Linked DNA regions of Homo sapiens: regions 1, 2, 3 and 5 are each reported to be linked to region 4. The links are microRNA targets in miRTarBase. Many come from high-throughput screens and were not tested one by one. Region 4 holds a microRNA gene; each other region holds the end of a gene's coding sequence.

Region 1 (6,174 bases), not on the chromosome of region 4:
CTAAAGCTGTGCGCAGCAGCTCACGCCTGTAATCCCAGCACTTTGGGAGGCCAAGGTGGGCGGATCACGTGAGGCCAAGTTTGAGACCAACCTGGCCAACATGGCAAAACCCTGTCTCTACTAAAAGTACAAAACTTAGCTGGGCATGGTGGTCACTCCTATAATCCCAACTACTTGAAAGGCTGAAGCATGAGAATTGCTTGAACCTACAAAGCAGAAGTTGCATTGAGGAGACATCATGCCACTGCACTCTAGCCTGGGTGACAGAGCAAAACTCTGTCTTCAAAAAATAAAAAATAAAAAAAGGCACAAATAAAAAGGGGGAAAAAAAATGTAGTTTCAAACCCAGGTGTGACTACTTCCACCATACTGTATGTTAATACATTATAACTGGTTGCTGGACGCGGTGTCTCATGCCTGTAAATCCCAGCACTATGGGAGGCATAGGCAGGAGGATCACTTGAGGTCAGGAGTTCGAGACCAACCTGTCCAACGTGGCGAAATTCCATCTCTAAAAATATGAAATTTAGCCGGGCATGGTGGTGCGCACCTGTAACCCCAGCTACTTGGGAGGCTGAGACATGAGAATCACTCAAACCCAGGAGACAGAGGTTGCACTGAGCCAAGATCACGCCACTTACACTCCAACCTGGGTGACAGAGTAAGGCTCTGTCTCAAAAAATAAAAAAAAAGAATGGGTTTTGGGGGCAGGATTTTTAAATATTCTAAAGCCCAGGCCACGCCCCAGTCTAATTAAACCACAATCTGGGGTGTTGGTGGGGGATGGTGGACACATTGGGGAAGCTCCCCAATGATACCAATGGTGTAGATAAGTTTGGGCCCCACCACTACACATGCTCTTACATATTGCAAGTTAGGACACTGCTGCATGGAACATGCTTCAGCAGTGTCCTTCAACCAGACCTAATGATATAATACATTGTACCTTCAATCACTATGCCAGAGTAGTTCTACAAAACGAATCCATATGGGTAGGCAGAATGAACTTAAAGTTAACTGTACAACTGAACAAAAATTCACAATTACAAAACCTCTTAATTACAACACATTCTCAAGTCCTAAACTACGAATGTTTCAGGTCCACGTGTCCCATAACTATATATATATAGTTTTATATATATATAGTCTTATATATAGTTTTACATAGTTTTATAGTTTTTATATAGTTATATATGTAGTTATATAGTTATATATATATAGTTATACAGTTATATATATCAAGAGTCTCGCTGTCACCCAGGCTGGAGTGCAGTGGTACAATCATGGCTTATGGCCTCCGCCTCCCAGGTTCAAGCAATTCTCCTGTCTCAGCCTCCCAAGTAGCTGGGATCAGAGGCATGCACCACCACACCCAGCTAATTTTTGTATTTTTAGTACAGACTGGGTCAGATGGGGTTTCACCATGTTGGCCAGGGTGGTCTTGAACTCCTGACCTCAGGTGATCCTCCCGCCTCAGCCTCCCAAAGTGCTGGGATTACAGGCGTGAGCCACCATGCCCAGCCCCATAGTTAAATATTAAAACAATCACAGCTGTCCTCTGAGTCCCATCGTTTTAAGTGCAAGCATTCAGCCCTGCCTAAAGAAAGGAAATATTAAGTAGCAAAACAAAAACCAGAATCTGAAGCATCTCTGCGGCATCTGGAGGCTTTCACGGATTTTTCTATTGCTTGATATGTCCTGTCGTTCCCCTAACAGCCAAATAACTTTTATAACCTCAGGAAACTTAACTATCTAAAAGTTAAAATATCCAACTCTTAGTGATAATCATTTAAAAGCCCTAGTAACACATCCCTTATTGTGTAAGCCAAAATAAAAATCTCACTTTATAGAAATATTTCACAAGTGTGTATCCTTTCTACCCTAGTTATCATTTTTTTTTTATTTTGAGACGTAGTCTCACTCTGTTGCCCAGGCTGGAGCACAATGGCACGATCTCAACTCACTGCAACCTCCGACTCCTGGGTTCAAGCGATTCTCCTGCCTCAATATCCTATGAGTAGCTGGAATTACAGGTGTATGCCCCCACGCCCGGCTAATTTTTGTATTTTTTTTTTTTTAAGTAGAGACAGGGTTTCACCACGTTGGCCCAGGCTGGTCTCTAACTCCTGACCTCAGGTGATCTGCTGACCTTGGCCTCCCAAAGTCCTGGGATTACAGGTATGAGCTACCGCACCCAGTCTACCCTCATCATCTAGATTCAACTTAGTTTGCATGATTATGGAGCATGTATTTAGACTCCAGTATCAGATTAGGGATGATGACGGATGGGGTGTTAAAACAAGTTATTTAACAGATTCCTAAATTTAAAAGGTTTATATAACCACATTCTAACAGTATACATAAACACTAGCAAAAAAGGACAAAGTATTTTGGGGGAACCAGATCCTTTAACATACTGAATTCTGTTAATATAAATCTGATTAAGTCAAGCTGATTTTAGATTAACAATTTCAATAGAAATTATCTGCAGAAATATTCTAATCCTTATACTAAAATCAAGCAAATAGTTTTTGAAATGCTATTTTAAGTCATTACCTTAAGAATTTTGCTCATTAATTACATTTTATACCAAAATAAAATGAGAGGGGGGTGGAGAATTAGTGACAGGGACTTAAAAGGAACCAAGAAATTCGGGGGAATAATAGATTATGTTCACTTAGTTGTAGGTCAAAACACTGTAAACTGTATGTTTTACCTGTGTGTTCAAGTCAATTTATACCTCAATAAAGTGTTAAAAATAAAAAAGCTGCCAAAAAAATGAGTTTGAAACAGCCATATTTGCTTTTCAGACTTCCATGGCCTAGTTCTGAGTTCAGCAATTCCACATTAGATCTATAACTAGTTTCTGTGCTTGTAGGCTCTCTTTAAAACAATATGGTCCAAGCTGTTTTATCAGCTGCCCATTATTTAGACACCAAGCTAAAACTATGTTACACTTTTAACTGTTCTCTTAAATTACATGTATGGCTCCAACCCCTCATAACCAAGCTTATTAATGTCATTAACTTAATGCATAGAATAACCATACCACTGTACTTTACCATATTTATAAGGAGTAAATTACTAAACACATTCCATATCACAATGCATGAAAGCACAATAAACATGAGTTAACTGCTGGTAAATGGGAATTAAGGCAGAAAAAACTGAGTATAAGAAAGATGCCAAAAACCAAAACTACAGAATCTTTTCTGAAAGTAGAAAACACAGTAAGGTGGATCTCAAATGTAAACCACATTCCTCAGGTTCCTTCTAGCTTGTTTTTGGAAATACAGGTTGTATCTGATAAATTTCATTAATCTATTAAGCAAATAGTACAATCTAAGAGTCTCAAAGACATTCAATATGTGTTACCGATAGCTTCGTCAAAGCATGCTTTACATTCTCCTGTGGCTAATTCTAACTACATTTAACTTTAGCTGATTAGATTGAATTGTGACAAATTATATAGTGAAACCTTATTTTAAGTATAAGGTCTATTTAATATTTTATTACCATTCTAACTCTTCCTCAAGTTTTGTGGGAGTGTGCTAGTGTGTTGTTTTTAATTTCCCCATCACCATCAGTCTCAGTGGGAACAACAACAAAAAAAAATAACAGTTTCTGGTGAAAACTGGGGAGTCCAGGTAGGGTATTTATGCAGAAATAGCAAAAACACTGCAGCCATCTGAGAAAACACTTTTTAAAAAACAACAAACACTTAAGATTAGATCTGACATAAAACCTCAAGTATTTTTGCTCTAAGATTATGCTCTTTACATAAGTTAGAATATATTTAAACATAAGGGGGAGCTAAAAGCAAATGGGGGTAAACAAACCAGAAAAATCAAAATACAAATATACACAGAGCCAAAATAGTATTTCCGTCAGCAGCAAAACAGAAACAATTCCAAAATTAATGTGCAAATGAAAATAAAGTAGTTAACAGTCATTCATTTAATAAGCTTGTGTATTTGATAATGAAAACGCTTAGCTTTCCTTTTCTGACCTCGGAAAAGTAATCACCATCTTTAGTAAGGTATTACTTTTAAAAGTATGACTTTAACAAGTGAATAAAGCATGTTTAGAGTATGTTTATGTTTAGAAACAATACCTTGAACACTACAGAAAACAACAATATTCTGAAAATCCAGTTTATTTTCCATGTCGTGGACAGATCCAGTCAGTGTGATCAGTTTTTCTGCGTGTGTAATAATTTATCAAAATAAGTTTTCTCACAAGACTCTTTTCCATCAACTCTGAAAACCCTGGTCTGACAACATACCCCAATAAAGCTTTTGAAAATCACCTCTTAAAATTTGGAAGAAAATGTGCCAAGTCTTTTCCTGTAACATTTACTGCACTACAAATGGCTAAAGAGCAATTTATGGTTTAAAAGGTGAATAGTACAACAGGTGAGTTCAGGAAATTGTTTTAGTGCACTTTGCTCCAGTTTTAGCCAACATGCTACATTTTCCTTTTTGGTTTTTGTTTTGTTGTTGTTGTTTTTTGGGGGAAGGAGAGGGAGACCGCACAAAGTGGACTTGAGGATTTCCATTGTACGAAAAAGATATGACTCTGCAAGCAAAACAGTGTAAGCTGCCTTTTTTCTTAAGACCTGGACATTTTAAGACAGAAGCTTTGCAAAACATTACACAATTTTTTATTATTAAATGAGAAAATCTCATTTGTTACATCGTCACATTGCTAGTCAGAGAAATGTTGCAGTGATGAAGAAAGTCAATGTTGGACCAACCCAAGTCCTCATTCCTACAACATTCATTTACAAAGAAATAATGTTCAACACAGCCCAACAAAACATTCTTGGTTTTCTTCATATTGAAGTCCCCCAAAAAATCCTCTTCTAATGGGGTATTTCACTACATAAATTATAGTTCTTCATTTTTACAATTCACCCCAAACTGTATGAGAGATGTATCACACTAAGATTTCTAAAGCTGTTAGGAAATCCTTCACACATCGTCGTCATCTGATGTATCACTGCTACTTGTCTCTGTGTCATCATTCTCAGTTGTGGGTTTGAAAGTGCTGTTCTTCCACGGTCCAAACTTGAAGTCACAGATCAAGCCATTTTTCAAAATACCATTTTTTCTCAGACCATTCTTCTGTAACTAAAATGTTAACAGCAAAATAAATAAATTATCCCTCAAGAGTTACAAACCTACTGTAATAATATAAGCATGAATATAATAAAATTGTATCCTAACCCAAAAACTACACAAGTAATGATATTTCTGAAAAAATTCTGGATCCAGACAAAGTAGATGTGAGTAATAATTGTCACACTGATTAAGGTACTAAACTTTCCCACATTTTTATTGCCTCAAGTGACAACTGTAATAAATACCTTCAGGGACTTACCAGAATATAATCAGAAACCATTAAGCTGTATCTGTTATTTTTATTATTCTGACCTAAATTAATACACCCCCCAATCTGCTTTGTTCATAGTTTGTAAAGTAGAATGAGGTATATAAAGTTACAAAATTGTCTCGTTTAACCGGAGATGAAGATACTAGAAAAAATACAGTTCTCTATTTCTGAAAATGAGAAATCATAACTAAAAGGTTGGTAATAAATAAGAATTGAGTCAAAACATCATCAAAGAAGAAAAAAGATAGTTGGCCCAAATTAGAAACAATTTAAAGACAGAAAATAAGCCCAGTGTAGTGGCACAAGCCAGTAGCCCCAGCTGCTCAGGAAGCTGAGGCAAGAGTATTGCTTGAGCCCAGAAATTTGGGGATGCAGTGAGCTATGACCAGCCACTGCACTCCAGCCTAGATGACAGAGTGAGACCCCAACTCTTTAAATAAACAAATAATCGATTTGAAAAAAAGCATCTCAACTTCCTGATGCTCTAACAAAAATTCCCTAATACTCTTTCAGAAAGGTAACTAGGGAGACATTAAGCAAGATGTTTTAGAATATGAAATACTCTTGTGCAAGAAAAGGATAAAAGATGAAGTTACTTAGGAAGCTACTAACACTCTCTACTTCTTATCACTCTTGCTCCTCCCCCAGAAAAGCCAAAAACAAAAACAAAAAACAAAACAAAAAAGGTCTGGAAAATGACTAATCCATAGACATCACTTACACTAATTCCTAACTATTGCACACCCAATAGTTTAAATAAGTCACTATTGCAGACTTCTA
Region 2 (6,174 bases), not on the chromosome of region 4:
GGTGCACGCCCAATTATCCTATTGTTAGCTGTGTGACCTTGGCCAAGTTCATTGATTTTTTTTGAGACAGAGTCTTGCTCTGTCACCCAGGCTGGGGTGCAGTGTCATAATCTTGGCTCACTGCAACCTGCACCTCCCGGGTTCAAGCAGTTCTCCTGCCTCAGCCTCCCTAGTAGCTGGGATTACAGGCGTGTGCCACCACACCCAGCTAATTTTTGTATTTTTAGTAGAGATGGGGTTTCACCATGCTGGCCAGGTTGGTCTCGAACTCCTGAGCTCAAGTGATCCTCCCGCCCCAGCCTCCCAAAGTGCTGGGATTACAGGCATGAGCCACCACACCCGGCCAAGTTCATTGATTTTTATAGACAACTTTTTACTCTTCACAACAAACGTCTGTTGAGTGTACCTTATAAGGTGTGAAGAGTAAAATGATGAATAGGGTAAGATGCTGAGCCTCAAGGAGCTGGGAATCTAGTGGCAGATACAGATGCAGATGTACCTCTAATACAATAGTCTTATATGTTACACTGTGTGCATCTATAATACAAAAGCAATACAGAAGTTTTATAAAAGTAATAACTAATATTAATTGAATACTTATGCAACTTTTAAGTTCTTTATATATCATCTCAGCAAAGTTTTTCTATAACTCTTTGAAGTAGATGCTATAATTCCATTTTATAGATGAGGAAACTGAGGTACAGAGAGAATAAATAATATGTCCAAGGTTTTACAGCTCCTAAATGACCCAAGTTGGTATTAACACGCAGTCTGGGCCTTACCCAACAAGCTCCACCGCCTCGGTAAGCAATTGTGGCCTGTGGAAGAAGTGTCGCGGGCTATTCCGAAGTTAGAGGAAATAATGCACTTGAAGACTCATCCCTAATTTGAGGTCCTTTTTAACAAAAATTGTGAAAAATATGCATAACATAAAATTTGCCATTTTAGCCGTATTTAGGTATACAGTTCAATAATGTTAAGTACATTCACATTGTAATGTAACCATCACCATCAGTCATCTCCAGACCAGTTTCATTTTCTCAAACTGAGACTCTGCACCCGTTAAACAGTAACTTTCCCTTCCCCCTCCCATCCTCTGACACCTGCCATTCTGCTTCCTGTCTCTATGAATTTGACTACTCTAGGTACCTCATGTAAGTGGAATCATACAGTATTTGTCCTTTGAGTCTGGCTTATTTCACTTAGCGTAATATCTTCAAAGTTGGTCCCTTCTTTTAAAAAAATTCTGTAATTTGAAATTATATCGTGTGGCCAAAATACAAGAAATTCAGGCTTGTTTTTAACAGCCTGATAGTCACATTGGAGGTCATATGATTTTCTTATTCTTTAAAGTTATATTTGGGAAGTTATAATCTACAGCCCAGTAGAGAGGTGCCTGAATTACATAGTGGGCCCTTTTATTGTGTAGGATGGAAAGATAAAGAGAATTAAATATATTGGGGTCTGTATGCAGGAAAGAAAGGATAAGCTGGTAGAACAGATCAGTTGTATGGGAGGCTTTCTTTCCTAAAGAGGGAGGTTTAAGAGTTAATGATTTAGGCAGGTGTGGTGGTGCATGCCTGTAGTTGCAGCTATAGGCTGAGGCAGGAGGATCACCTTAGCCTCTGAGTTCAAGACCAGCCTGGGCCACATAGTGAGACCCCGTCTCTTAAAAAAAAAAAAAAGAGTTAATGATTTAAATATTTCTTTCGTATTTGTGTCCCAGCCTCCAAAAATAGATCAGATACAAAAATTAGTTGGGTATGGTGGCATGCACTTGTAATTCCAGCTATTCAGGACGCTGAGGCAGGAGAATCGCTTGAACCCAGGAGGCAGAGGTTGTGGTGAGCTGGGATCGTGCCACTGCACTCCAGCCTGGGCAACAGAGTGAGACTCCATCTAAAAAAAAAATAATAATAAAAACAAAAATAGATCAAAATATGTCTCAGGTCTATTCCTGAGACATATTTCCCAAGGATTTTTATGAAACTTCTTATTTAGATTCGCTTTTATTTAAATATCCATGACCAACTAATCTGGGTTAGGGTCTATTGTGTGAACAAAGGGAAAATTTTGGTAAAGCTCCCTGCCTCCCTTTGCATCAAGAGCACCTTATTCTTTGCAGAGTGCTGTTGTATACACTATGAGATTGGATCCCGATCCTCCTGGGCTGGGTAGATGGTGGTGGAGTGGTTCCTCACTTTGAAATGAGGAACTAAATGAAAGAGCAGCCGAGTAACTTGCCCAGGTGGCATCTCACTGAGGGCTTTAAAATCTCCTTGGTTTAGTTTAGTTTGCGGATACATCTTTTATTTTTGCTTTTTCCTTTTCTCAGAGCTTGACAAAAGATTTGGGAGGCAATGCAAAATGCTCAGACTTCACAGAGGAAATCTGTCGCCGAGTAAAAGATTTAGATTAACACTTCTACAACTGGCATTTACATCAGTCACTCTAAATGGACACCACATGAACCTCTGTTTAGAATACCTACGTATGTATGCATTGGTTTGCTTGTTTCTTGACAGTACATTTTTAGATCTGGCCTTTTCTTAACAAAATCTGTGCAAAAGATGCAGGTGGATGTCCCTAGGTCTGTTTTCAAAGAACTTTTTCCAAGTGCTTGTTTTATTTATTAAGTGTCTACCTGGTAAATGTTTTTTTTGTAAACTCTGAGTGGACTGTATCATTTGCTATTCTAAACCATTTTACACTTAAGTTAAAATAGTTTCTCTTCAGCTGTAAATAACAGGATACAGAATTAACAAGAGAAAATGTCTAACTTTTTAAGAAAAACCTTATTTTCTTCGGTTTTTGAAAAACATAATGGAAATAAAACAGGATATTGACATAATAGCACAAAATGACACTCTTCTAAAACTAAATGGGCACAAGAGAATTTTCCTGGGAAAGTTCACATCAAAAAGAGTGAATGTGGTATATTTCTAAATGATATGGAAAATAGAGACAGATTTGTCCTTTACAGAAATTACTGAGTGTGAATAAAAACTTCAGATCCAAGAAATATATAATGAGAGATATAATTTTTGTTAATAAGACAAAGGTAATATATTGGATACAAAGACACAAATGTATTGTGTGTTCAATTATTTTGTTGTCTTGAGATTTAATATTCTTTCCAAGAGCTTTTAATGAAGCAGAGAGCTAGTACTTCATTTTCACTGGATACATTTTCAGCATCATGAGTTGTCACAGCCTCTGAGCCCCTGATCTGAAGCCAGAAGGGCTGAGTGTATTGTAAACTTATTCTTGCATGTTGCTGTCTGGGAATGGACCACACTACAGCAGGTAGTTCTGGGGGCGATACTGCCGAAAGGCCCGAACACATGTATTTTGGCTGCAATTGAGGAACTTGGGATGCTATTAATTTTGTATTTCAGCAACTGCCCCTTCTCCTATCCCAAAGCACCAATTACTGCCCTCTGCCTCAGCAGTACCAGTATAAGATGACATTCCAAAGACTGGAGGCAACTCAGCCTGAGTTAATTCACAAAATTATGCCATGCTGGGGCTTGAGCTTGAGCTTGGGCTTAGGCTTGGGCTCAGCTTTTGACCCTCAGGCATCTCCTTTCCCTTCCTGTCTTCCTCTCCCTTCTCCTCTGCTGCAGCATGATTTTCTTAATCTTCAGACACTCACTATTTTCATGAACAGTTACCCTCTGTCCCCACAACCAAAGACAACTCATGGCCTCCTTTGGCCCTTGTGTAACATTGCAAACCTGTGGCTTTGCAAAATGTACCCAGGTCACAAGGGGATTTTTTTTTTTTTAGCAATGATATCCCTGTCTGGGTCACTTTTTAAGCTTGTAACCGCCCCCCCAGACTTATAATCTTAAATGTATTTTCCTTTGTTTAAGCTGCTGCTTCCTCTGTTTCATTGGATTGTGCCAGTTATCAGTGGCTCTTGGGTTCAAAGTAATAAAGAATTCCAAAACTGAGATGTTTGCTTTCTCTACCTGTTTCCTGTTCAGATGCCTTCGGTCATTTTGGCTCAGCTTGCTACTGAGAATGGCTGCTTCCCGTATTCAGAATGGAAGTGGGGTGGTCTGGTGGCGACAGGCTAACGTAGAGCTGGCTGCTTTTATGAGAATGCGCCACTTGACCCCATCCTGCACCTTTGTTTATTCCAGGGCACTAATGGTCACTCGCATGCCCGCTGTGCACAGTCCTGTGAGTTAAATGCCCACTACTCTCTGCACTGGTCCCACCTGCTCAATTGACAAAAAAAATCAGGTCCTTGTTGACAGTTCTGTTAAAAGGTTTAATATTCAAATTATACATTAAATAGAATCAAACAGGCAGCAGCAGTTTTATTAAGCATCAAGTCAGTTGGCATGTGGGTGGCGGAGTGCCTGGTAATGGAATAATAGGGTCGGCGATGCCCGCCAAGATTCCAGAGTAAGTCAGGTCGCTAGGTGAGTTGTGACTGATTGCTTTTCCTGCAGCGCACGTGAGCAGTATCAGCCATCTCTCTCCTACCCGCTCCACAGCCTACTGCTGGCTGTCCTGTATGTGAGCTAGCAGCTTTTTAATCTACCTGGAACTAAGGCCAAAAATTATCAGCCCTTTCGTTCTGGAAGGAGAGCTGATCTCATTTGTCACCTGAACAAAAAGCAATACTTAAACTGAATTAAAACTACCCACACGTGAAGCTTCTTGGAATTGTCAGCTATTGTTGGCGTAAGACCTGGTAAATGTAGAGCCAGTGCTGTGCCCTGACCTGGAGATCTAACAGACTTGGCAGAAATGCCTGTGCCCAGACTGAAGAGACCTGGGGCTCAGGAAGAGGCTCGGAACGCCTGCCCTCTATTCTATAGAAACTGCAGGCATAGGCCCTGATTACATTTTTTGCTCTTGGTAAAAGGAGTCAATGATACCTTTGTACTTCTCCAAAACTGTGAGCCGTTTCAGTTTCATCGTGGGACCTAAAAGGGAAATGAGAAGAAATGAGTGAGGCCCAGGCTCTGAGAACTCTGAGAATGTGTGTGGTAAAGACTCACACTCAGTCCTATATATAACTCAGGAATTAAGCCAGATAATCAGGACCGTCAGTAGCCAGCCTCCAAGACAGTGATCGCTCCTGGTATTCATATGGCTTGTGTGTAGTCTCCTGTGTTATACCACTGGTTGTGGCCAGTGGAGTATAGATGAAGGGTTGGTATGTCACCTCTGAGAATAGGTTATAAAAGATCAGTTTCTTTTATACACATAGGAAAGTAGTGTAAGCTACATCTGCCTTTTCCTTGACCTGTACCCAGTTTTGACCCTCAGTCCATTTTCTCTGAAATGGATTTATTTGTTCCATCTCTTGAATGAATAAATTGTTGAAGCAATTAAAAAATAGACTAGGTTTCTGTCTTGGGCTTTCTCTTGGACCATTCTTCCTGGGCAAGCCGGCTGCCATGTTGTGAGGATACACAGCCCATGAGAGGCCCACTGGCCACACACGGATGTTTCTGGCCAGCAGACAGCAAGGAGCTGAGGCCTGCCGACAGCCACGTAAGTGAGCGCGGAGGTGAGCCTCAGCTGCAAGTGACTGCACCCAGCTCACATTGACTGTAATCCCGTGAGACCCAAGCCAGAACCACTCAGCTAAGCTGTTCCTGGATTCTTGACCCATAGAAATGTGGATAATAAATGTTTACTGCTTTAGGCTGCTACATTTTTGGGGTCATTTGTTACACAGCAATGTATTAGATAGCTAGTACACATCATCTCTGCATTTTTGTGAACGTTTATACAACGTTGGACATTATGCTTTGATGGTTGTGATGGGGGTAGGGGAAGCCCAGGTTATGGGGAGCCTCTGCCATGGTCTTTATGAGAGGTCTTCCCCTAATTACTTTTCTTAACCTTGATTTATCCCCCAAAAGCAAGTTTGAAAGAGCTCTGATTTGAGGTCCTGGGTAGCTTAAAGTGCCTAACTCACTCTTGACTGTGTAACTGGAAACTTTCTGTGTTAAAGTCATTATATTAACTGCTTAGTGAAGACATCTTCTGTCTCTCTGACCTTGCGTTCAATATGCTGGCAGCAGACAGCCAGATAAGCTCAAGGTCTCTGATTGCAGCTCAGCTTTGCTGTAGACAATTGCATCTGGGTTCAGCCGTGATGGATTTGAGGGAATCACACTGGCATAACCATTTCTACCTCTCCTG
Region 3 (6,174 bases), not on the chromosome of region 4:
GCGAGGAGGGCAGAATTTATTAGGCAAAAGGAAAGCTCTCCACAAAAAGAGGGGTCCTTCATGCAGGTTTTACACCTCACAAATTGAATGCCAGGCCACCACACACGAGCTGAAGAGGCACGGCTTCTCCCCTGCATAAGGAGCAAACTCCTCGTGGCTCCACCCCATGTGTGGGCGCTTAGTCTGAGCCACATTGATTTATTTCCCTTACTGCACATGTGTTGAGAAATGGAATCTTTCACAGTGGGCATGTTCATTCAGGCAAGCCACGTGTGCACAATGACCTAGGCAAGTCAGAGGCTCTCCAGGAACCCTTCTCTATTTGCCTAGGCTTGTGCCTGTCACCTTTCTCTTTCATAGCTAGCTGTTTTATAGATTGGTCTAATATATCTTTTACCAGTACTACAAGAAAGTGGCTTACATGATTATGGAGGCTAAGAGGTCCCATGATCTGTCATCTATAAGCTGGAGACCCAGGAAGGCCTGTGGTATAATTCAGTCTGAATCCAAAGGCTTGAGAACCAGGGAAGCCAGTGATGTAAATCCATCTGAGGACAGAAGATGAGATGTCACAGCTCAAACAATGAGGCAGGAAAAAAAAGGGGGGGGAATTCTTCCTTCCTCTGCCTTTTATTTTATTTACGCCCTCAACAAACTGGATGATGTCCACCCACCTTGGGGATGGCTATCTCCTTTACTGAGTCCCCCAGTTCAAATGCAAATCTTGTCTGTAAACACACTCAAGACACTTCAGAATAATGTTTAAACAGATATTTGGCACCCTGTGGCCTATTCAAGTTGACATATAAAATTAACCATCACAAGTTTACCCTTGTCAACTTGGCACCCATAAACATCTCTTTAAACCATACTTAACTGCCACATAAAGACAACAACAAGGTCATAATTCCATCTAACACGATTAACAATCCAGCATTCCACCAGAAACACTCTAACCCGTTTCCCAGAAGAGGTGGTAAAGTCTTCATGTGATGTTTACTCTCTCCTTGATATCCCATAACTTAAATACTATGATGTAAAATTAATCAAGGTTGAACACTGGAGCCAGTTAAAAAAATTAACAATATTTAAACACTATGCTATAAAATCAATGCATCTTATGTTACAGAATAAGGAAATGAGAAGAAAACAAAGCTACACACACACAAAATGTAGTTATAGCAAAATATGGAGGACATACTTATGACAATCACAGTCTGTGTTTCTGTAACTGGTCATATGATCAAAGCTAGTATTTATTCCACCATTTATTCTGTATTCCCTTTGCCTTCAGCAAGCACTTCATCTGGTCATGGTACTTACCTGGTGGTGACCCAAACCTTCATTCCTGAAAGGTCTGGATCATTAGTGGTCCTGTCTGAATTAGGCTGTAGTTTTCCATTGACCTTAATCACAGGGCATGATAACACTAAGAGATGCCCTAAGGAATCCTGTGTATTCCCAACATACTTTACCTTACCACCATTCGGGGTAGTCCAGTTTCTACTTGGTAGTCAGGAACAATCACCCAGCCAGCACTGTAACTCATTTGTCTATTGAGTTAGAGGCATAAGAAGCCCCAAATGGCTGAGGAGCAGTCTTAAACTTCCAGTTCAATTAAATCATGATTGCGTCTCTCAGTGGAAAATATTCCACCCTATGTAAGACCTCTAGGCCAGCAGTGCATAAGTCATGGGAACAGGAAGCAAAAATTTTGCTAGTGGGTCACCAGGGCTAATAGCGAATGGTGTCCTTCCTATTCTGACCCCTTGATTCCTGGACCTGTGAATCCCAGTCATAAGAGAAATGCACCATATACTGGATGTTGATTCAGAGCATAGACAGTCTTCTAGAGAACCTTGTCCCAGCCCTACAAGGCACTGCTATATAGCTGGTGTTATTACTGTCTTCAAAATGCCATTCCACTGCTCTATGTAGCCAGTTGATTCAAGATAGTAGGGAACATGGTAAGAAAATTCCATGATCATGGGCCCACTGCCACACTTTTGCTGTGAACTGAGTTTCTTGTAATGCTGTGTGGAATACCATGGTCATAGATGAGACATTCTGTAAGTCCACGGATGGTAGTTTTAGCAGACACCCTGCGCGAAGGGAAAGTGAATCTGTATCCAGAGTAAGATCTATTTCAGTAAGGATAAAACACTATCCCTTCAATGATAGAGGTGGATCAATGTAATGAACCTGCCACTAGGCAACTGACTGATGACCCTGGGGAATGGTGTCATATCAGGGGCTCAGTGTTGGTCTCTGTTGCTGGCAGACTGGGCACTCAGAGATAGCCTTGGCCAGGTCAGCCTTGGTGAGTAGAAGTCCACGTTGCTGAGCCCATGCATAACCTCTATTCTTGTCACCATGGCTACTTTGCTCATGAAACAATTGGGTGATGACAGGTGTGGCTGGAGAAAGAGGCCTACTAGTATCCACAGAACAGGTTATCTTGTCCACTTTATTAAAATCCTTTTTTGCTAACCCTTTGGTGAGCATTCACATGGGGCACAAATATCTTCACCCTTTTTGCCCATTCAGTGTCTATCCACATACTTCATCTCCAAATTTCTTTGTCACCAATTTTCCAGTTATATTGAACTCCCTGACCATCCAGCCAAACCACTGGCCACGGCCTATGAATTGGCATATAATTGAATATCTGGCTATTTTTCCTTCTAAGCAAAGTCAACAGGGGGACTGCTCAAAGTTGTGTCCACCAGGAGGATTTCCCTTCACCACTGTCCTTCAAGGTAGCCCAGAGGTGAGATGTAGTGCTGCAGCTATCCACTTTAGGGTGGTACCTGCATATCATACAGAACACTCTGTAAACCAGGCCTAAGTCTTCTCTTTCTCTGTCAGCTGATCACAGGGAAGTCCCCATGAAGCCACCGATGCAGGCTGGAAGAGAGAAGGCAGGTAGCAGAAGTGGGGACTACGGAAATTTGGCCTACTTCTTCATGTAACTTCCTTGTGCCTTCAGGGCCTCTCAGGCCCAATCATGTGTATACCACTTCCATCTGATGACAGAGTGTTGCTGTGCATATCCAACTTTGTGCGTTGGTGGCTCAGATAACATCCAGTTCATGATGGGAAGCTCAGGTTGCACGGTAACTTGGTGACTCATTAAGTATCAGTCTCTACTAAGGCCCAGTAGCAGGCCAAGAGCTGTTTCTCAAAAAGAGACTAGTTATTTGTTGGTAATGGCACGGCTTTGCTCTAAAATCCTAAACCAAGATTCACCTATAGGGACCTGCCAGAAGCTTCAAACAGCATCCCTATCTGCCACTGCCACTGAAACACCACTGGATCTGCTGGATCATATGACCCAAGTGGCAGAGCAGCTTGCACAGCAGCCTGGACCTGTTGCAGACTCTTTTCTTGTTCTGGGCCCTACTCAAAACTAGCAGCTTTTTGAGTCAATTGGTAAACAGGCTGGTATAACATAATGAAATTGGAAAATGTTGCCTCCAAAACCCAAAGAGGCCCACTAAGTATTGTGCCTCTTTCTTGGTTTTAAGAGCAGCAAGATGCAAGTACTTATCCTTCACCGTAGAAGAAATATCCTAACATGCCCCATGTCACTGGATCCCTACCAATTTCACTAAGGTAGAAGGCCCTTGAATTGTAGTCATATTTATTTCCTACCCTCTGATGCAAATGTCTTTCCACTAAGTCTAATGTAGTTCCTACTTCTTGCTCACTAGGTCAAATCAGCATAATGTCATCGATATAACCAATCAGTGTAATATTTTGTGGAAGGGAAAGGTAATCAAGATCCCCATGAACTGAATTATGACATAGAGTTGGAGAGCTGATACACACCGGAGATACGACAATGAAGGTGTGTTGCTGGCCCTGCCATCTGAAAGCAAACTGCCTTTATGGACTGGTATGAAAAAAAAGACATTTGCCAGATCAATTCCATTGCCTTACCACATAATGCTGAAATAAATATTTCATACATAATTTTTATATTTAAAATGCAAACTATAAATATAATACACATATTTACTTGTACTTGTGCAAATAATTCTATAGGCCTGACTGAAAGGGAATGTTCCACCTTTCTACCTTTTTTTAATGACAAATTTCTGATAAAATTCCTTGTTACCTAATGAATGACTTCAGTTTCAAAATATGCTAAATGCATTCAGTTTCCAGTAGTTCTGGGCACACACTGTATGCTAAGACTTGGTGAACTTGAGGACTGAAAGAGTTTCTTGGCCTGCTTGTCTGGAAAGTGCAGTGGTTCCTTGCAGACCTTTTGTCTTCATTATTTTCAAAATTTCTTCTAAAATAAAAATCAAAAGGTAAAATCCATTAAGCCATTTGGTAGTGTGCATGATCAATAAGCAATTTAATAAGTTAAACACAGATGATTTATAAATTGTATTCATCTGACAAAACAATGTATATCAAATAAATGTCTACTAAAGTGAACTTGGTCTTCAGCTAAATGGGAGCACTTGGTATTTTCAAAGTGTTGCTGGTGAGTCTAATCAGAATAAATGGCTTGCTTTGCAGTCACAGCCTACTTTTGACTCAGCAGAAACATTAATTGTCATTGTTATTATAGCAAGTGATCAGTTTTTTAGTTGATTGGCTCCAATCTCTGCCCTATGTCTTTCTCTTTGGATGACAAAAGCCAATGAAGGTGTGGACAAACTGAATAGTGACATTGCACAGTGAGAGTGAAAGAAGTAGCTTATTTCTTTCAGGCATATTGAAAAAAGAAAACCTTCCTTATAAATAAATAAAACTAAGAAGACTGAACTAAGACAATGGAGGGAGGGAGGGAGGGAGGGAGGAAGGAAGGAAGGAAGGAAGGAAGGAAGGAGGGAGGGAGGGAGGGAGGGAGGGAAGGAGGGAGGGAAGGGAAGGGAAGGGAGGGAAAGGAAAGGACGCATGGATGGACAGAAGGAAGAAAAAAAGAGAAGAGAAGAGAGAGAGAGAAAGAAAGAGAAAGAAAGAAAGAAAGAGAGGGAGGGAGGAAGGAAGGGAGGGAAGGGAGAGAAAGGAAGGGAAGGAAGGAAAGGAAGGGAAGGGAAGGGAAGAGAAGGGAAGGAAGGAAGGAAGGAAGGAAGGAAGGAAGGAAGGAAGAGAGAGAGAAAGAGAGAAAGAAAGAAAAAGAAAGAAGGAAGGAAGGAAAGAAAAAAAAGAAAGAAGAGAAGGGAAGGGAAGAAAGAAGGAAGGAAGGGAAGAAAAAAAAGAAGGAAGGAAAGAAAGAGAGAGAGAAGGAAGGACAGATGGACAGAAGGAAGGAAAAAAAGAAGAGAAGAGAAAGAGAAAGAAAAAGAGACAAAGATGGACAGAAGGAAAAAAGAAAAGAGAAGAGAAGAGAGAGAGATAAAGAAAAAGAAAAGGAAAGGAAAGAAGAAAGGAAGAAAGAAAGATGGAGAGAAGGAAGGAAAAAAAGAGAAAAGAGAGAAATAGGAAGGAAGGAAGGGAGAAAGACAAGAGAAAACTAGCAATCATGTGATTTGAAGGGCTGAGGACTTTTAGTATAAGCTGAAAATCAAACTTGAAGTGTACAGAAAAAGAGAGGAAAGATTATGGTCAATTTAGTTATAAAGCAATCTGAAAACAAAGATATAAAAATCTATACAATTAAATAGCTTTCATGATAAAACTCCTAACGAACTAAAGAGTACAGCACAATTGTCAAGGGCATGAAGACTAGAGGGTAGAGAGAAAATTCATAATACTGAGAGTGAGGTGTTAGAAAAAAACATTAGAGATTTTTATACTTGAATATTAGGTTATAAACGGGGAAAAGAGAAGATAATACTTTTTAAAATCAGAAAAATTTACCTCTGAAAACCTCTTTTCTCTTTCAACATAAATTTATGCCTGTATTAGCTACTGTCAGTGATTAACTGTTTTAAGTGATTCATTAACATGCCAGGTTATCTTATAAATTAAAGCATTTTACATTATTAACTTTTGATTTCAGCAACATAAATGCTTAAACAATAAATTGGTCTGTATTACCTGGGTTGTTTTCTTTAATGGTAACTAAATAGAATAATCCTCTTGGTGAAAGGAGATCTGGAACCAGGGGAAAAAACCTGTCCATGACTTCCCGACCATTTCTGCCACCAGCCCAAGCTGCCTCTATTCCGTGACTTCCTACCTGTGAACAATTAGAAAGAATGTTTTCTTTTA
Region 4 (6,042 bases):
CACCATCCTCGGGCTGTTCTGCGCGGGCCAGGGCGTCTTCTGGGCTTCCATGGCTGTGGCAGCCGTGTCCCGGCCCCCGGTTCCGGTGCAGCCTCTGGATGCGGAGGTCCCAAATCGTGGCCCCTTCGACCTGCGCTCCGCGCTCTGGCGCTACGGTCTGGCCGTCGGCTGCGGCGCCATCGGTAAGACGTGGGCTGGCTTCCCACTGTGACAACGTGGGGTGGCGGGACACGACCTTCCCTATACAGGCAGGGAGAGTCAGGGACTCCCTATCCGAGAGTGGCGGGCGGGCTTTACCCCACAGAAATGTGAAACACTGGCCGGGCGCGGCGGCTCAAATGCTGGGAGGCCGGAGGCGGGCGGATCACTAGGTCAGGACATCCAGACCATCCTGGCTAACACCGTCAAACCCTGTGTCTACTAAAAATACAAAAAATTAGCTGGGCGTGGTAGCAAGCGCCTGTAGTCCCAGCTACTCGGGAGGCTGAGGCAGGAGAATCAATTGAACCTGGGAGGCGGAGGTTGCAGTGAGCCGAGATGACGCCACTGCACTCCAGCCTAAGCGACCGAGCGAGACTCCCCTCTCAAAAAAAAAAATTGGGAAACAGTGATGTCTCCGAGCGCCGTGCCCTGTCATAGCCTAGGCTGAGGGCTGCCCTTCACTCTGCGACCTTGAGCAAGGTCCTTAAAGCTCTCCATCTTCCCATTAAAATGGAAACGGACATCTATTAAGGTTGTTGGGAGGAATAACAAGATTACTGGGTATAACAGGAGCTCAGTACTGCACTCCAGCCTGGCCGGCAGAGTGAGACTCAGTCTCAAAAAAAAAAGCGCTCAGTAAATACTACTTTCATCCCACAAATTTCTTATTCAGAGGGCACTGGAAAGGTCGGTACTTAGATGCCCAGTGAAAACCCCTCACCCCAATCTCTGCCCTGCCTGCAGGAGCCCTCGTACTCGGTGCTGGTCTTCTCTTCTCTCTCCGGTCTGTGCGCTCAGTGGTGCTTCGAGCTGGAGGGCAGCAGGTGACCCTCACCACTCATGCCCCCTTTGGCTTGGGGGCCCATTTCACAGTTCCTTTGAAGCAGGTATCTTGCATGGCCCACCGGGGTGAAGTCCCTGCCATGCTACCTCTGAAAGTCAAAGGCCGACGCTTCTATTTCCTCTTGGACAAAACTGGACACTTCCCTAACACAAAACTCTTTGACAATACTGTGGGTGCCTACCGGAGCTTGTGAAGAAATGACCTCAAGTCACTCACCTCTCCAAGAGGAGGATAAAAACTGAACCTTGGGGAGCCAGGTGTGTTGGTTCACACCTGTTGTAATCCCAGCACTTTGGGAGGGTGAGGCAGGAGCACTGCTCGAGCCCAGGCTGGGCAACATAGCGAGACCTTGTCTCTATTTACAAAAAAAAAAACAAAAAAAAACGCCAATCTTAGAATGGAGTAACAACCAGGGTCACACAAGGAGGTCAAGATTCATTAACAACAAATAAAGGAGCAGTCATCCCTAGGGCAGCTGCCTAACAGTACCTCTAAGTTTCAGTCCATGTCTGCTTAGCCTTCACTCCTTCCTCCTATCTAGTTGTACTTTAACATCAAAAACTCACTACTAAGATGAAGACAGTAATATAATATTTTGGTACAAAAACAGCTGCAGGAAGAGGTGGAGGGGGGCCTGTCATTATGTTTCCCCCCCACCCCCCAACGAAAGGAAAACTAAGACTCCCAACATAAACAGGGCCTTGAGGGGGGGGATTACAGGCACTTGGGCATGGAGTCTTCGGCTGCAGGAAGCACTCCGCTTATTCTTCAGGAATGGGAAAGGCGTGACCCAACGAGAGCATCTGTCTCAGAGCTCCACTCAGGGTCACCCCTCTCCAGAGGCCGGTATGGGGTGGCTTCAGACTTCCACTGCACGACCTGGAGCACCAAGACCACACACCACAATACCAAATTCACCCAAGAAGAGGTCTGTAGGAGACAGGGACAGGATCGTCAGGAGTGGGACCATTTCAAATCCAGTCCTTCCCACCCACACACCACTCTGAACTGCTGAATTTTAAGCTGACAACCCCTTCAGCTCCTCTCACTGGTAGGCCAAGCTCACAATACACTGGTGAGCACCCACACAGCTACAGATATTTATGTCAGTTTTTCCTCCTATCCTTGGGTCTCACTTCAGCATTGTGTAGGTTGGAGTAAAACTGCAGAGCAGTTCCAGGGGGTGTCCATGGAATTTTCTGGGCTTCAGAACAGCTGTGAGGTCAAAGAGACAGTTGTGAGAAAGCGTGATAGTTTATATCCGAGGCACACCTGTGCCCAGTGCCCTGTGAGTTGAGAGCAACTGATGGGGATAAAAGGAAATTATAGGACCCCGCTGCAGAGGGAAGGTAGTCAGCCCCAGCCAGGCTTCCCTCCCTCTCCCATTACCTAATTGTAGTGTTCAAGGAGATGATGGAGTTGCAGAGAGACCTGGTGCCAAATCGAAGGATACAGGCAGACACCAAGACCAGGAAGACGGCTATAGCTGAGATGGCCAGTGCAATGCGCAGCCCTATAGCACCTCTGAAAGGGAGAGAACAAGCCTTGTGGTGGAGGTGAGGCTCATCCTACCTCAGCCCCTGGCCCTCAGGGTTAGGCAGTCACCTGTGGGAGTCCTCGATGCAGCTGCTGTAGATCCAGAAGAGCAAAAGCAGGAGGCAGTAGAGGGCCAAGAGGCCAGAGGCCCCAGCTACAAAGTAGCACAGGGATGGTGCTGAGGGACGGGATAAGGCCAGGGAGGAGCCATTCAGGGTGGCCACACCATACAGGGGACATCTACCACTGAAGGAGCCCTGTGGAGAGAAGCTGCTGAGTCCTAGATTTCAGGTTAATGTCTCTAGATACAGTCTCTTGGTAGGGTGTTAGTGATAACTTAGGAATGGTCCTGCATTCCAGGAAGTTATTTGTGCACCGTCAATTCCTATTTCTGGGACAGGGATATTGATGGAGAGGGCCTGCTGGGGAATCACACCGGCAGTGGCCAGAAGGATCAGAAAATAGGCAATGAATATAGAATGCAATGAGCTTCAGAGAAGCCTCACAAGTTATGGTCTCTGTGCAGAAACCTTAGAGTAAACCCAGGCCTTGTATATCCTTCAACAAATAACTATCTGTGAGGTGCTTTTTTTTTTTTTTTTTGCTGGAGTGCAGTGGCGCCATCTCGGCTCACTGCACGCTCTGCCTTCTGGGTTCATGCCATTCTCCTGCCTCAGCCTCCTGAGTAGCTGGGACTACAGGCACCCGCCACCATGCCTGGCTAATTGTTTGTATTTTTAGTAGAGACAGGGTTTCACCGTGTTGGCCAGGATGGTCTTGATCTCCTGACCTCGTGATCCGCCTGCCACGGCCTCCCAAAGTGCTGGGATTACAGGCGTGAGCCACCAGGCCCGGCCAGTGTTTTTGTTTTTGTTTTTGCGATGGAGATTCGCTCGTCACCCAGGCTGGAGTGCAATGGCACGATCTCGACTCACTGCAACCTCCGCCTCCCAGGTTCAAGCGATTCTCCTGCCTCAGCCTCCGAAGTAGCTGGGATTACAGGCATGAGCCACCACACCCGGCTAATTTTTGTATTTTTAGTAGAGACAGAGTTTTGCCATGTTGGCCAGGCTGGTCTCGAACTCCTGACCTCAAGTGATCCGCCTGCCTCAGCCTCCCAAAGTGCTGGGATTACAGGCGTGAGTCACCGCGCCCGGCGGATCTCTGAGGTTTTCTCATGGTGTAAAATAGGCACACTAGTGCCTACTTTATAGGCATTAAATGAACCCATGTTTATTAACCAGATTACCTGGCTGGGGTAAACGATGTAAATTATTGGCTTCTACCTTTACGTCAGCGTTTTCTCCATCTCTCATTTTGTCATTTAACACACTGTGCTACAATCATGTGGCAGCTTGATCATCTCCACTACACTATGCTTTATTTCTCGACAAAGCTCAGCACAAATGGCTTCTGATTTAACGGATGGACGCAGGTTCTGCACTGACTTCTGTTTCGGAACCACAGTAAGGCTGTGCAGCAGGAGCCACGAAACCCGACTCCACCTAGTGCTTTAAGACGCTACTGACCCGTCCCTTTGGCGAGGGGACAACTTCGAAGTATGACCTGGCCAGGAGGAGCCACAAAGCGCGATTAGCCTCGCTGCATTTCAGGTACAGGCCGGCGCCAGCCGTGCCTCACCAGGTCCACCGGCTCCGAGCAGCAGCAAGCCCGGTCGGAAAGCGAAAGTGGCCTCGCCATGTCCAGACCGGCCAGCTCCCCCGCCTACCTGACCCCGCCCCGCAGCCGCACCTGGGTCCGAGTCATCGCCGCGGCCGCCACGGCCCCGCACAGGAAGGCGGCAGCAAAGAGCGCAAGCTCGACGCGCTGCAGCCAGGACAGCGCCATGGCGCCCTGACCACCAGGAAGCGCCGCTGCAGCAGCACCCCGCCCAAAGCCCACCTTATCCGGCGCGACCCACGAAGGTGGAGACGTCATTTCCGGGGGCGGGATTTATTTACAAGGAACGAAGGGGCCACTGACTCAGAGCGGCAAGTACAGCGAGTAGTCCGAGAGCGCCCACCGGCGGGCGGGGCGGCTGGTACGGCCGATCATGGGCAGTTTCTGCACGTAGCGCGAGGCCGGGCTAGGCCCGTACGGCGCGGGGAAGGCAGTCTGGAAAAGGCGCCCGCGGCAGCGCCTCCCAGCCTGCCGCCCGGCTATGATGAAACGAAAGTGCGGGGCGCCGCGCGGGGCGAAACGGCTCTTCTGGAAAACGTCGCGGGTGCCGGTCCCGGGGCCCTGCTGCCGGGGTGCCCCGCGCGCCCGATGCACGCGCGGCAAGGGCCTGCTCTCAGAGGCGGCGGGCCCAGAGGCCGACGCGGGGCCGCCTCCGCCGCTGCCCCGGGGGCTCTCGTCGCCGTGCGGGCTGACTATGGCGCTTGCCGTCAGCTGCGGCATCTTCCGCACCGAGTCCGGGGCTGCCGCCGGCTCCTTCTTGTCCCCGGGCGGCCGCGGAGCCGTGGGTGCAGGCTGGCCGGTGCCAAAGCGTGTGGCCAAGCTGTCACCGAAGAAGGCGTAGAGCTCCCGGTAGATGTCGGCCAGGGTCACCGAAAGAGAAGGGTCCTCCGGCCCCGCGCCCCCTGGCGGCAGCGGGAGGCCGGACCCAAAGCTGGGTTCTGCACCGCCCCCGGAGGACGACTCTTGAAAGAGAAGGCTGTCCCATGGCAGGTCGTCCAGGCGCCGGCACCCCCTGCCACCTGGGCCACCCCTGTTGGGCTCTGCTGCCTGGGCCTTCATCTTCAGCAGTCGCTCTACCGCCACCTGTAAGAGCCAAGGACTAAGATAGGCAAAAAATTCGAGGAACCTGGGCCCATCAAATATTCCAAAGTAAGCCTGCTTGGCTGCTAAGCTCATGCAGGGAAGGGAGGCTGGAAGGGGACGGTACTCACCAGAATGGCTCCATAGACTTTGTGTCCATCTGCTTTGACCTGGGCATTAGATACTGAATAATCATCCAGCACAGCCTGCAAGTTTGTCCAGTAGGTGGACAGGTGTGGGTACAGGACTCGTTCTACTGCCTGGAAGGAAGAGAAGGAATACAGTTAGCATGTCTTTGATACTTATTCCCTCTCAAGGACCCTTTCCCATGAAAGACCTACCTTTATCTCTGATCCTAGACAGGGCTCAATCCTCCTAAATTCCCTGATTGGCATATTCAACCATATATTTATTTGGAACCTACTGTATACCTAAGCTAGGCATTGGGAATAAAGATAAGGTACAAAGGGAGACAATAAAAAATATACCCAATATCACTGCCCTGTGTGCTAAATAATGCTCATTACTGACAACTCCAAAATTTAGTTTGCATACTGCTACCCTATACAATCAGGCAAGTACTGGCTTCACTTAGATGTAAACTGAGACTCAGTTCAAACAATCTGCATAAAAACAACCAACCAGAGACTTGGACTCTGATTATACAATTTAAAATCCTGTGATTGGACAGGCGCTGTGGC
Region 5 (6,174 bases), not on the chromosome of region 4:
CTGCAGCACCCTGGAGGCCCAGGGCCGGCGGGGCGGCGGCTGTGGGGATCCCGGGCGCGGCCCACACCTGGGACAATGAGCAGGAACCCAGGTGAGCAGTTTGTGGGGGAAGGGAGCCGAGGTCCGGGGAGCTGGGAGCACTGGAGACCACTTGGGGCAGCCATGTGAAGGGGTGTGTGTGAGTGTGTGCGCGTGTGCACGTGCGTATATGTTAGGACTGAAGTCGAAGCGGGACTCCTCGCCATCTCTCCATGCACACTTTAACAGCGTCTGCCCCATCTCACCTCCTGCCCTTTCTCACACCCACTTCTGTTCCCCCAAACAACGGGATGAGTCAGGCCCCAGCCCTCGGGAGCGGGCAGAGGTGGAAGGCGTGGGAAAGAGAAGGGGGACCAGCAGTGCTCGCTGGTGCCTGCGGGGAGGTCCGGACCCCACTCCCCGCCCCACCACTCTCTTCCCCTCACCCCTGCTTCACTCACGTGCGGTTCTGGAACCCGCGAGCCCAGTGGCTGGCCTGGAAGTCCATGGGCTGTCGAGAAGGGGCGCGGCGACTATAATGACAGGAAATAGTCTTCACTTCTATCACCAATAGCTTGGACTTCTGCACCCAGAGGCAGCTGCCAGACTCCTCATCCTGGAGCTCCCGGGGGCTGTCAGGCCCCTCGGAGAACAGTGGGCCATCCAGCATCCTGCCCCACCCCACCCCGGCCCCCCACCCTCCCACCCGCCCCAGGAGCCCCCTCCCAGCCCAGGGAGCCGGCGCCCACTGCAGAGCCGCGGGCCCGGGGACTGGGAACTATATATACCCGGGCACACGTGTGTGTGCCTGTCTCTGTGTGTGCGCGCGCATGTGACACCGCGCGGACTGCTCCGCGCTGCTACCTCCCCCATGTGCACGGCCGCCCCCTGGGGCCCGGGATTGGACGCCCCTTCCCACTGCTGTTGTCCCCCAAGCCTGATGGGATCGCACGAGTGGGCGGGGGAGGGACTTATGATTCTTGCCAAGCTGACAGTGCCCCCTCCCCCGCCCCTATTTCTTCAACCTTCCTGCCGTTTTAACCCTTTACTCTCCTGCTTGTCAGGTTGCCTGACCACCAGGGTTCTGCCCCTGGCTTCCTGCCTCAGATTTCAGTTTCCCCAACATAGAGTGATGAGATTGGAACTCAAGGTCTCTGCCTGCCACTCTGCTGGTTTCCATGGGGCTGGGGTGCAGGAGGGGCTGGCCCACGGCTGGGGGGCTATTTTTAGCGGCAGTGGCTGTTCGGGTGCAGAGATGAGATGAGTAACCAGCTCCCATGCGGTGGAGAGAGGAGGCGGTGGCTTTTACCAAGCTTTTGTGCGACTCTGAGGGAGAGCTGCCTTCCCTAAGCTCAAAAAGGGTGACCCCTACACCCGTATCTCCTTGTCAGCTCAGTGCTGCAGCCTAGGACTGCTGGTACAGCAGGACACAGGCGTCTGCCTTGGCCACCCAAGCTGCCCTACCAGTTCCATTCTACATGTTTGTCCTTGGGCAGCCAGGGAGCCCTCCCACAGCAGCAGGCTTTCACCTCCAATCCAGAAGCCAGGATTTGGGGGTTATATTGTTCTGTGCCCACACAGCCTGCCCAGCTTTATGGAGGACAGAGTAAGTGCTTATGCACTCTCACCCTTCCAGAGGGGGATGGAGGAGAAATGATGTGTTTGCTTGGCAAAACTAATCCCCTAGCAACTGAAATGATAAAAGTGGCCTTTATTTTTTTCAATGTAGAACTCCCCCTCACCACCACCACAATGCCTAGTTCACTCAGTCCCCACCTTAAGTGGTGCTCCAGATGCTCACCTTTTGGGCTGCCTCTGTCCTGGGGGGCTGTTGCTTATATCCACATGATCCCTCCTCCTAAGCTTATACCAGGTGTCCCCTGATTCACCATGGTAATGTTAGTGGCAGCACAGCCCACGCCAACCCTTCCATGCAGAGACTTAGCAACCATGCCTGGCAACCATGGCAGCAGCTTCAGTGGAGGGGAGCAGTGCAGAGAGAGGGGAGAGTGTGTGGGGCATGGTTCCTCGGGAAGAAGGGATAATTTGCCTCTCTGGAGAGGAATAGGTAAGAATAGAAGCTTGTGAGTCTCCCAAATTTCATCCCTTGTCTCTCCCTCAGCTTCATCCTCACACTGAGACGGATAGGTTGGGTTTTAGAGGGAAATGGGAGAAGCAAGAGTTCCCAATTAGTTTTCCACTAATGTACATGGAGCCCTTTGGGTCCAGACCCTTCCTTTTAAGGGGATGGGGAACAACCAGAAAGGTTGTGGGGCAGAGACTGACAGACTGAGAAACAACTCAACAAAACCAGGTCTCTGCTCCCTAACACAAACCTTTAGAGAGAACGCAAACATCCCGTCCCATCCACCCTACCCCCCTTGATTCCACACACCTGCCAGCTGCACTGATGACTTGACTCGAAGATGCTTCCTTCCACCCTAGGTCCCACTAGAGTCCTGAGGCTTTTTAAAGCCCTTGCCTCCTCCCTAGGCAAATCTTCCTTAATGAGGGAATGTGACATAAGGGGCCATCTGTCCTTTCCACCATGTGCTTACCCTCCTGACACATAAACATACTCTAATTCTAATAACTTGGAAGCCTTCCTCCCCCAAGGTTGAGAATGTGCTGTGAGAGCTGTAAAGGGGTGAAGGCAGAAGCAGGGGCTCCTCCACAGCCATGATGCAACACTGAAAGCTGAGCTCTGATGAGGGCCACCTTCTTTTTTTAAAATAAGCTTCCTCAGGTCGAATCTGATGAGGGCCTTGATGCTTTTCCCTGTGTTCCATCAGGAGAACCCAGTATGCCCTGGCTGGAGGGTTATCAGAGGGGTTAGGCACTGTGGGGCAGGGGCAAGGAATGACTCCGAAATTGCTCCTGGCTTGGATGGGAAACTGTATCATACCTGCAAGGCTGGGGTGAGCTGGCACCCAAATTTAGCTCATACTCCAGTCTAGCAGTTCTTCTGATGTTGGGTGCTGACTGCTGTTTGGGTCTACATGCTTTCAATACAGGGAATGGATCTGATGGAGTGACCACTGCCCTGCTGTTCTCCCACCATCCAGCTCATTCTCACCTTGGAAGAGGCAAGGGATTTGTAGGTTTAAAGATAGTGCTGGCCGGGTGCGGTGGCTCATGCCTGTAATCCCAGCACTTTGGGAGGCTGAGGCAGGTAGATCACAAGGTCAGGAGTTCGAGACCAGCCTGGCCAATATGGGTGAAACTCCGTCTTTACTAAAAAATACAAAAATTAGCTGGGCGTGGTGGCGCGCGCCTGTAGTCCCAGCTACTCAGGAGGCTGAGGCAGGAGAATCACTTGAACCCGGGAGACGGAGGTTGCAGTGAGCTGAGATTGCGCCATTGCACTCCAACCTGGGCAACAGAGTGAGATTCCATCTCAAAAAAAAAAAAAAAAAAAAAAAAAAAGATAGTGCCAACTCAGCAAAAGCCAAACAGTCCAACCTTCCCCAACTAAGAAAAGCTGATAATGGTGGCAGGATTCTCTGCCCAAAGGAGACCCTCAAGTCTGTCTACTCGTGTGTGTGTACGTGTGTGTGTGCGTACACACGTTATTATTATTGTTAATGACCAGTTGAAGAAGCCATATAAAGTAGGAAGGTAGTACCCATCAACTGTAAAAATCAAACACTGCAATATCGTGAAGAGATTCCTGTCATTTAATTAGATTTGCCACAAAAAGCAATAACCTTAGCTAACCACGCTGCTCTCCTCCTCCACCTAACCCCCATCTCCCTTCATATGCACAAACACAGGAACCCAAAGCCCCTCCTCCCCACAATCCTCCCCACTCACATTATGGGAAGAAATGTCACTAAATGGACTTGGCCTCCTCCATATAGCACGGAACAGGTGAATAAAAATATCTTTATGAAGAATTTTGTTGTGCTATTATCTTAGGGTTGAATCAGGGCCAAGATGGAGGCAGAGGCAAGTGAGGTCTGGGGATCTCTTAGAGATCAGAATTTGTCTGAGAGGCACAGAGCCTATAGTTCACCCAGAAAGGGGGATATATCTAAGAGGACAGGGGCTAGAACTGGCTAGGCTGAAAGTTTTTTCAAGTGTATGTGTGAGGGTAAGGGTAGCTATAAATCCATTCTCTTTCCTCCCCCATACCTTCCCTAGCTCCCAGATAGAAGGGCAGGGGACCCTGAACAGGGAACAGAGTCACAATTCCCTCAAGTTTCATCTGATTCCCACAGAGCTTCCAGCAGGCAGTGAGTTGGGCATATCCCCTGGTGCTGCATGACCCCTTCCCCCAGCTCAGGGCTTCTTCTCTCCACCTGTGAGCACCAGGGCCTGCAGGATGTCAGACAGTGATACAATTCCCTTGACCACATCATTTTCATCCACCACTACAAGTCGGTGAACCTGGCACAGAGCAACAAGGGAGAAAGGGAATGTTTAGTGCTGGCCTCAGGGGAAGCCCCTCTGCCCCTACTCTCCTTGCCAAACCCCACTCTCAAGGCTGCTCCCCTCAGCTCCTTTAGGGTTGCTGGCCTCCCTACCTCTGCTTCCACTAGCCTGTTGATGATGGTCTCCAGAGTCTCATGCAGGTAGCACTTGAGAACACCCTCAAAGTAATGTGATCGATGTTGCAAGGCTTTAGTCACAGATACATCTAGGTTGTTGTAGGTCTTTTCTGCTGCCAGATTCTGGGGAGACAGAGGAAGGAGCTTGCAGGGAAGCAAGAGAGCCAGCCTCCAAACCCTGAACCCATCCAACCTCAACAGAGGGATTCAGGGCAATTGTCAGCCACAAGCCACACCCAACTCATTCAATTCCTTTTCAAATAGGATTTGAAAGCCTGGAAGCTTCTAAGACCCTTAGATCACAGAAGAGACTCCCTTCTCCCTCTCCATATTTAACAGTGCCCCCCCCCCACCACTTCCCTACCTCCCAGACCCTCCACAATCACTCACGATAACATCAAACTTGGAGTAGATGTCCACCACACGCCCTAGGGGGACAGAGGCAGCTCAGTAAGGAGGATCTGGGATCTAAAGCTCCCCCTACTCATAGAATCACCCTCCTGGCTAAGCTGAGGGGAAAGCAGATCTTCCCAGAGCCACCCTGACTTGCCTGGATCTTCCCTCCCTCTCCTTCTGCCCAATCTCTCACCCTTCTCATCCACCACTGGCAGGGCTGAGACTCGATGCTGTACAAAAATCCCCAGAGCCACATAGACGGGGGTGGTAGTGCGAACCATAGCAATATTGGCATAGGTGCCAATCTGTAGCTCTTCCAGAGACTTGGACATGAACTCTGGCTTGGGGAACTCAGTGATCTGAGGAAAGAACCATCAGCTTAACTTTCAAGGCACCCAAAGCCACCCTTGGATACCCCCTCCAACCCAGTATATTAGAAATAAGGGCTGGGTGCGCCGGCTTATGCCTATAATCCCAGCACTTTGGGAGGCTGAGGGGGACATATTGCTTGAGCCCAGGAGTTCGAGACCAGCCTGGGCAACATGGCAAAACCCTATCTCTATAAAAAATACCAAAAAATTAGCCAGGTGTGGTGGTACACACGTGTAGTCCCAGCTCTTCTGGGGGTTGAGGTCGGGGGTCACCTGAGACCAAGAGGTTGGAGGCTGCAGTGAGCCATGATAGCGCCTCTGCACGCCAGCCTGGGCAACAGAGTAAGAACTTGTCTCAAAATAAATTAATAAATAAATAAGAAGTGGGGCTGGATGCAGTGGCTCACACCTGTAATCCTAGCACTTTGGGAGGCTGAGGCGGGAGGATCACTTGAGCTCAGGAGTTTGACACTAGCCTGAGCAACACAGTGAGACCTCGTCTCTCTTTTCAATCAATCAATCAATCAATCAATGAAAAAAGAGAAAAAAGAACTGGGCTGAGGAGCACTTACAAACAATTTGAGGAACTTCAGAATGCGCTTGTGGGTGAGGATGTACAAAGTATTGCCTGATTCTGGGTCAATAACTGGCAGCCTGTGGATCTTGTTCCGAATTAATGAAGAGACAGCATCAAACAAGCTGTGAGAGGGTGGGAGATAATAAGTTCCACAGTGCTGGGGCTGGGGGTGATTAAACAGGTCCATACAGTGTATTGCTCAACAGGGAAAACTGATGGTTAGGGAAGGGGGGCAGTGTACAGGCCAGACTTAAAGAGAAAG

The links. Region 4 holds the annotated microRNA hsa-miR-6748-3p (UCCUGUCCCUGUCUCCUACAG, at 1,976-1,996, opposite strand). A microRNA usually pairs through its seed, bases 2 to 8, with sites in the 3' UTR of a target mRNA and lowers its output. Matches are read on the target gene's strand: a 7mer-m8 pairs with bases 2 to 8, a 7mer-A1 pairs with bases 2 to 7 and ends in A, and an 8mer does both.
Region 1: miRTarBase lists GPBP1 as a target of hsa-miR-6748-3p. The part of its 3' UTR that is shown has no 7-base or 8-base seed match.
Region 2: the mRNA of ACSBG1 is a reported target of hsa-miR-6748-3p. Seed matches in the 3' UTR shown: 7mer-A1 at 3,594-3,600 and 7mer-A1 at 1,117-1,123.
Region 3: the mRNA of HEMK2 is a reported target of hsa-miR-6748-3p. Seed matches in the 3' UTR shown: 7mer-A1 at 1,373-1,379.
Region 5: miRTarBase lists PRKAG1 as a target of hsa-miR-6748-3p. Seed matches in the 3' UTR shown: 7mer-A1 at 3,687-3,693.

The regions. Positions count from the first base shown.
Region 1 is chr5:57,261,552-57,267,725 of GRCh38, reverse strand. GPBP1 (GC-rich promoter binding protein 1) reads right to left here. Exons shown (of 12, transcript NM_022913.4): 12 at 3,053-5,132. The coding sequence ends at 4,974. Among named protein-coding and RNA genes, the nearest start is that of GPBP1, 91 kb to the right of the region's middle.
Region 2 is chr15:78,166,587-78,172,760 of GRCh38, forward strand. ACSBG1 (acyl-CoA synthetase bubblegum family member 1) reads right to left here. Exons shown (of 14, transcript NM_015162.5): 14 at 882-4,943. The coding sequence ends at 4,858. It overlaps IDH3A (isocitrate dehydrogenase (NAD(+)) 3 catalytic subunit alpha), which reads left to right. Exons shown (of 11, transcript NM_005530.3): 11 at 2,336-5,359. The coding sequence ends at 2,419. Among named protein-coding and RNA genes, the nearest start is that of IDH3A, 20 kb to the left of the region's middle. RefSeq lists an enhancer at 946-1,245.
Region 3 is chr21:28,872,192-28,878,365 of GRCh38, forward strand. It overlaps HEMK2 (HemK methyltransferase 2, ETF1 glutamine and histone H4 lysine), which reads right to left. Exons shown (of 6, transcript NM_013240.6): 5 at 6,001-6,142; 6 at 1-4,300. The coding sequence ends at 4,194. Among named protein-coding and RNA genes, the nearest start is that of HEMK2, 10 kb to the right of the region's middle.
Region 4 is chr11:62,785,819-62,791,860 of GRCh38, reverse strand. It overlaps MIR6748 (microRNA 6748), which reads right to left and starts at 2,046; the gene lies at 1,976-2,046. TMEM179B (transmembrane protein 179B) reads right to left here and starts at 4,459. Exons shown (of 5, transcript NM_199337.3): 1 at 4,334-4,459; 2 at 2,651-2,838; 3 at 2,435-2,569; 4 at 2,182-2,260; 5 at 1,461-1,975. The coding sequence starts at 4,429. The coding sequence ends at 1,814. It overlaps TMEM223 (transmembrane protein 223), which reads left to right. Exons shown (of 2, transcript NM_001080501.3): 1 at 1-182; 2 at 946-1,890. The coding sequence ends at 1,238. TAF6L (TATA-box binding protein associated factor 6 like) reads right to left here. Exons shown (of 11, transcript NM_006473.4): 10 at 5,473-5,601; 11 at 4,519-5,344. The coding sequence ends at 4,565. RefSeq lists enhancers at 1-455, 5,189-5,388 and a silencer at 4,829-4,938.
Region 5 is chr12:48,998,600-49,004,773 of GRCh38, forward strand. PRKAG1 (protein kinase AMP-activated non-catalytic subunit gamma 1) reads right to left here. Exons shown (of 12, transcript NM_002733.5): 8 at 5,908-6,034; 9 at 5,158-5,323; 10 at 4,959-4,996; 11 at 4,545-4,691; 12 at 3,675-4,407. The coding sequence ends at 4,300. DDN-AS1 (DDN and PRKAG1 antisense RNA 1) reads left to right here. Exons shown (of 2, transcript NR_147179.1): 1 at 1-91. It overlaps DDN (dendrin), which reads right to left and starts at 776. Exons shown (of 2, transcript NM_015086.2): 1 at 480-776; 2 at 1-67. The coding sequence starts at 688. RefSeq lists silencers at 1-57, 707-1,001 and an enhancer at 1,147-1,441.